Linked DNA regions of Homo sapiens. The protein of the gene in region 1 interacts with the protein of each later gene in a pairwise test. Each region holds a gene or a part of one and is shown in the gene's direction. Other genes may lie near its edges.

Region 1 (2,838 bases):
TAGCAGCGTGGGGCGGGCGGGGCAGGAGCAGTGGAGCAGACCCCAGCACTCCGACCTTTGGCTGCATGAACCTCAGCCCGTCCCACCCACCCCCTGCTGTCTGCCAGCTTGCCACAAAACTTCCCATCTGTGGATCTCCAGGCCCATGAATACCAGCCTGTCTGCGAGTTAGACGCCAGTCCTGGTGGCCCGGGAAGCCCAGATCCGCATCAGCGGTAAGTACCCCCTGACCTGAGACCCCTGCACCAGCTGGGAGGAGCAAGCAGGAGGGGCAGGAAGGCGAGGCTGTTGCCTAGAACCCAGACACTCCACAGCTAACTCTGGTGACACTTTCCACTCCCCACGCTGTGCCTCAGTTTCCCTGTCTATAAAAAGGAGCGCAGTCCTCTTCCTATAGGGAGTGTGCCTTGGTGAACCCATCTTCCTGAACAGTTGGGCCCCTCTTCTCAATTTAGGAAAAAGAAACTTCTTTTCTCCAAAGGAGCAGGAAAATTGTCTCCTCAGAGAAAGGGCCACTGGGGGTGCAGGTGGGACACAGCTGAGACACTCCCAGCTGTCCACACCTCTTGACAGGTGGCTGCCCTGTGGAGCCTCCCACCGCCATCCTTGCCCTGAGCCCAGATCCCTTGCATCGGGGCCAGGGTCTCCTAAGTATGCCCACCCCCAGGTTCTGCACCCCACACCAGCATGTGCTCACTGCCTGTGCCCCGGGAGCCCCTGCGTCGCGTGGCTGTGACTGGGGGCACGCATGGCAACGAGATGTCGGGCGTCTACCTGGCCCGGCACTGGCTGCATGCCCCCGCAGAGCTGCAGAGAGCCAGCTTCTCCGCTGTGCCTGTGCTGGCCAACCCGGCAGCCACATCCGGCTGCCGCCGCTACGTGGACCATGACCTCAACCGCACCTTCACCAGCAGCTTCCTCAAGTGAGTGCTTTTGCCGCCAGGTTGGCCCAGGCAGTTGGGCACCGAGTCCCCACCACAAAACTTCCCTCCCGCCACCAGCAGGGCCCTCCCTGCCTTCACTCCTGCTTCCCCTCTGCCTATGTGGCCCATTCCTCCACGGGACAAACCGAACATTTAGAGAAACCAAGATTGATGTCACCTCCTCCAGGAAGGCCTTCCTGACTGCAAGTTGGTTCAGGACCTCTTCTGGGGATCCCAGACCTAATTCTTCCCTCAGATTAGCCCCACAGGCCATGTTTACTTGTCGTGTGCCCTGATCACTGTTCATGCCTCCTTCCAATGAATAGTCACTGCATCCTATCTCCAGGCCAGGCTCTGGCCAGCTCAGGTGAGAGAATGGGGAATAGGACCAAGGTGTTGGCTTCAAGCTTAATGGGGAGACAGAGGAAGAACCGGGCAACCATAACCCAGGGGGCTAAAGGCAGGGCCGGAGGCTACACAAAGCAGCTAACCTGGCTGAGAGCAGTCAGGGAAGGCTTCCTGGAGGCAATGGTGTCTCAGCCAAGCCCCAAAGGCTGACTAAAAGCTAGCCAGGGGAAGAGAGGTGAGAGGGAGTTTCCACTGGAGGGCCAAGCACAGCACAGGCCTGGGGGTGAGACCAGCATGGTGCTCAGGCAGTGTGGCTGGAATGAGGGCATGAGAGGCAGGCAAGTGGGCAGGCAGGTGGGAGGGCGGGCCAGGCTGAGAGCTTGGATTTTACCGGGAAGTGCAGAGCCAAGAGGGCCACGGGCAGGGGTGGACACAGCCACAACGTCTGAAGGGAAAGCCCTCGCTCGAGCTGCTCAGAGTGGCTCCTGCAGGGCCCCTGCCCCTTTCCCCTTAAACCACTGAAGACTGACTGAGACTGTGAAGATCGGTGTCCCCCATTCCCGTCTCCACAGTTCCAGGCCCACCCCGGACGACCCATATGAGGTGACAAGAGCCCGAGAGCTGAACCAGCTGCTGGGGCCCAAGGCCTCGGGCCAGGCCTTTGACTTTGTCCTTGACCTGCACAACACCACGGCCAACATGGGCACCTGCTTAATCGCGAAGTCCTCCCACGAAGTCTTTGCCATGCACCTGTGCCGCCATCTGCAGGTGGCCCCGGCCCCAAGCACACAGCTCCCCAGAGGGGAGTGGGAGGGAGGGAGGGCAGGCGGGACAATGCTGGAACCTCCTTTGCTTAGCCCCTCTTCCCCGGGCCTAGTTTCCCCTGGGCTCCAGTCCCTGGGGTCTGCCACTCGCCAGCACTCCAGGCCCCCGGTACCCCCTCCCCTACCCTGCCAGAGGGTAGAGGGAGACCTGGCCAAGGAGGGTGGTGCCCTGTGTTTCCTCCATGCAACACCTTCCCACCTCAGTTTCCCTTCCCAAGTAGGCCTGGGCCCCTAACCTGCCTCTCTCGCCCCCAGCTGCAGTACCCCGAGCTGTCCTGCCAGGTCTTCCTGTACCAGCGGTCTGGGGAGGAGAGCTACAACCTGGACTCTGTGGCCAAAAATGGACTGGGTGGGCCGCAGCCTTCTGAGAAGTGGGCGGGGCCAGGAGGGCTGGAGGGGCGGGTCCAGTCACCAAGGGGCAGGGCCTCTTCAAGGAGTATATGGGTCCTGCACCTGCCTAACCCCTTGCTTCCTGGTCCCCAGGTCTGGAGCTGGGCCCCCAGCCACAGGGTGTGCTGCGGGCTGACATTTTCTCAAGGATGAGGACCCTGGTGGCCACAGTTCTGGACTTCATCGAACTCTTCAACCAGGGTGAGACCCCAGGGGACTTTCGGGAAACAGGTCCGGGGAAGAGCAGGTCTGGCTCAGGGGTTGGGGAGCCAGGCTCACAGGCAGGCTGGGATCTAGCCCTGACGTACCCCCACGGCCCAGTCTGTCCCCTAGCCTGGAGGGAGGGATGGGCT
Region 2 (3,500 bases), on another chromosome or scaffold:
CCAATGTAACAATAATCCATTAAACACACCTTTACTAACTGTTTTCTAGGAGTCTGATATGATGAGGAAATAGGTAAACCTTTAATAGCCAGTACTAAATTAGAGTGGCACAACTTTCACTGGGAAAAAAGATGGGTATTTTACTTTTCTGTTTTAGAAAAGTGGCTTGACAACAGTATGCTTATGTCTTAGAGTTTGAAATTCAAGTTCTTGAACATTATTAATGGCTACAATCATTCATACCCACATTGGCTGTATTCTTGATGGATCCAAAGTGATTTTCACCTCAACTCTGAATTTCATTCTCCTCTTTTGAATATAATACAACCATCTCACTAGAGGAAGCATTTCAGTCTTTTCTGATTGGAGATTCATTATTGTTTTAGATAATGTTTTCATTTGACTTATGGGTATATAAAAAATTTTATCTTAAAAATATTTCCTCTCATTTTAGCTAGCAACATTGTTTTCATGTCCACAAAAGCTGTTTTGGTGGATTTTGGCCTAAGTGTTCAAATGACCGAAGATGTCTATTTTCCTAAGGACCTCCGAGGAACAGAGGTAATTATGTTCACATGAAAAGGGTTACTATTTTATTAAGAATAAAAAGGAAAAAATGTTCTAGAATTATTGTGGGAACGAAGGACAAAGAAGGGGAAGAAACCCACTGCATTAAATCATTATTTTCCTTGGAACACATTTAATGAGCACTTGCTCTGTGTCAAGTACTAAGTTTAGCACTTGATTTTTTATTGTATTTTTTGCTATGTTATTTATAATACATAATAGTATTTGTAATATAATATACATGTTGATATATATAATATAGAACATTTGTACACAATGTCATGTCAAAATAGATCACATTGGCCAGGTGTGGTGGCTAATGCCTGTAATCCCAGTGCTTTGGGAGGCTGGGGTGGGAGGATCAATTGAGCCCAGGACTTTGAGACAAGCTTAGGCATCATAGCAAGACCCCATCTCTATAAAAAAAAACTGGTTTAGGCTGGGCACGGTGGCTCAAACCTGTCATCCCAGCACTTTGGGAGGCTGAGATGGGCGGATCACCTGAGGTCGGGAGTTTGAGACAAGCCTGACCAACATGGAGAAACCCCGTCTCTACTAAAAATACAAAATTAACCAGGCGTGGTGGCGGGCACCTGTAATCCCAGCTACTCGGGAGGCTGAGGGAGGAGAATCATCTGAACTCAGGAGGCAGAGGTTGAGGTGAGCCGAGATCGTGCCATTGCACTCCAGCCTGGGCAACAAGAGTGAAACTCCATCTCAAAAAAAAAAAAAATTAGCTCAGTGTGGTGGTACACGCCTGTAGTCTCAGCTAGTTGGGAGGCTGAGGTAGGAGGATTGCTTGAGCCCAGGAGTTCAAGGCTGCAGTGAGCCATGGGCATTCCAGCCTGGATGACAGAACGAGATGTTGCTTCAAAAAAAAAAAAAGCCCCCCAAAATAGATCATATCCACAGTTCGGCTTTATTTTGTGTGTTTTTGTTTTTGTTTTTGAGACAGAGTCTTGCTCCATCGCCCAGGCTGTAGGACAGTGGCGCATGATCTCAGCTCACTGTAATCTCCACCTCCTGGGTTCAAGCGCTTCTTAGTCTCCTGAGTAGTTGAGATTACAGGCATGTGCCACCACATCCAGCTAATTTTTTTTTTTTTTCAGTAGAGATGCAGGTTTCACTATGTTGGCCAGGCTGGTCATGAACTGTTGGCCTCAAGTGATCCTCCCACCTCAGCCTCCCAAAGTGCTGGGACTACAGGTTTGAGCCCCCGTGTCTGGCCCACAGTTCAGCTTTAATAATAATTATAGAATTAGAGTTAACTTTATAATAAGTTTAGCACTTAAAAAGCAGTATGTTATTTAATCCTTACAACAACCCAGTTGTTGCTATTGTTATTCTTATTTTACAATCAAGGAAATAAGTTTGCAGAGATTAAAATAAAGTGTCCAGAGTCACTCAGTGACAGACCCTGGACTTGAACCCAGTTCTTTCTAAGTCTAACCCTAAGGTCTAACTGCTACATAACTTTAAAAAATTATAATATTACATACATTATTAAAATATATTAGTGATATAACTAATATCACTGAGTTTTGGCTCAATGACAGTCTTAACTATGGTCATTAATATTTATGAGGACTCTAAAGGCCTCTCTTTGAGCCTAGGAATTCTATAATAAACCTCAAGTAGTGAGCATAAATGTATCTTATTTAAAGATGTAAAACAGCACTCATGTTTAACTCATCTGTGAAGCAAAAAACGACCCAGAAAAGCCTTTCTTTCCTGACTCTAAATGAGATTCTGAAAAATGCGTTCGCGGGCTTCCAAGTAATGTATTTAACATTCACATCATTAGGCTGACTGGGTGATTCAATTAGCCAGTGTCCACTGGGCATCTGCTATGTGGCAGGTTCTTGTGAGCACCAACGAGGAAGCATGACACAAGGCAGTGAGGAGCAAGCCTTAGTGGTACTCCAGCGATCCTCACTCTTTGGTGGGAGGACTTACTTTAAATTACCTGAATTATTAAAAGAGCAACCGTTTAGGGATGGGCGTGGTGTTCTCACACCTGTAATCCCAACCGTTCGAAAGGCCAAGGAGGTGGGGGTGGTTTGCTTGAGCCTGGGGGTTCGAGACCAGCCTGAGCAATAGAGTCAGACCTCATCTCTTTTGAAAAAAAAAAAGAAAAAAAGAAGGAAGGGAGGGAGGGAGAGAGAGAAGGAAGGAAGGAAGGAAGGAAGGAAGGAAGGAAGGAAGGAGAAAGAAAAAGGAAGGAAGGAAAGAAAAAGAAGGAAAGAAAGAAAGAAAGCATGCACAACAGTTTAGTTCACAGTTGATTGTGATGGGCACAAGGTTGGATGCAAGCAGGAAGGTAAATGGGTGTAAAAGCTGCCTCCTTGGCCCCTCACCACTACCGGGGGAAGCTGCACTGCCTGAGCCACTCAGCCCCATGCCCTTCTCTTTGCTGGAAGTGCCCATAGGAAATAGAGAGAGGGTCTTTGGCTGCACCTCTATGTCAGGATTACCAGGTCAGTCTTGGTGTTCAATCAGATGACAACCCTTAGTCTAGTCTAGCTAGTATACGTGTTGCACTGAACTGGATTGCAGCCACAAAAAAATTGTCTTCCTTTCAAACCAGATTCTTCCAGCCTGGGCAACATAGTGAGACCCCATCGCTACAAAAAGTAAACAAACAAACAAACAAAAACTTTACTTTTTGTAAAAATGGCATGGTGGTGCATGTCTGTAGTCCCAGCTACTCAAGAGACTGAGGTGGGAGGATTGCTTGAGCCCAGGATGAGGCTGCAGTGAGCTGTGATTATGCCACTGCACCCATAGCCTGGAAAATAGAACAAGACCTTGTCCTAAAAAAAAAAAAAACGCCAAGATTCTGTAAGTCCTTTCTCAACTCTCTCAAAGCCAGCACTCTCCCGGGCAGCAGAAGAAATCCTTGCTTTTGTGAATATTACTGAAGTTATTATTGA

Evidence for each region. The genes of interacting proteins can lie anywhere in the genome.
Region 2: the proteins of ACY3 (region 1) and MAP3K8 interact in a two-hybrid assay, tested with the Homo sapiens proteins (one large-scale study listed by BioGRID and IntAct).

The regions. Positions count from the first base shown.
Region 1 is NC_000011.10:67,644,893-67,647,730, reverse strand, and holds part of ACY3 (N-acyl-aromatic-L-amino acid amidohydrolase (carboxylate-forming)), read left to right. Parts: intron 1-107; exon of another isoform or gene 108-141; 5' UTR 142-215; intron 216-667; 5' UTR 668-687; coding exon 688-923; intron 924-1,269; coding exon of another isoform or gene 1,270-1,290; intron 1,291-1,843; coding exon 1,844-2,039; intron 2,040-2,350; coding exon 2,351-2,444; intron 2,445-2,578; coding exon 2,579-2,686; intron 2,687-2,838. UniProt on the Homo sapiens protein: Plays an important role in deacetylating mercapturic acids in kidney proximal tubules. Also acts on N-acetyl-aromatic amino acids.
Region 2 is NC_000010.11:30,451,184-30,454,683, forward strand, and holds part of MAP3K8 (mitogen-activated protein kinase kinase kinase 8), read left to right. Parts: intron 1-454; coding exon 455-561; intron 562-3,500.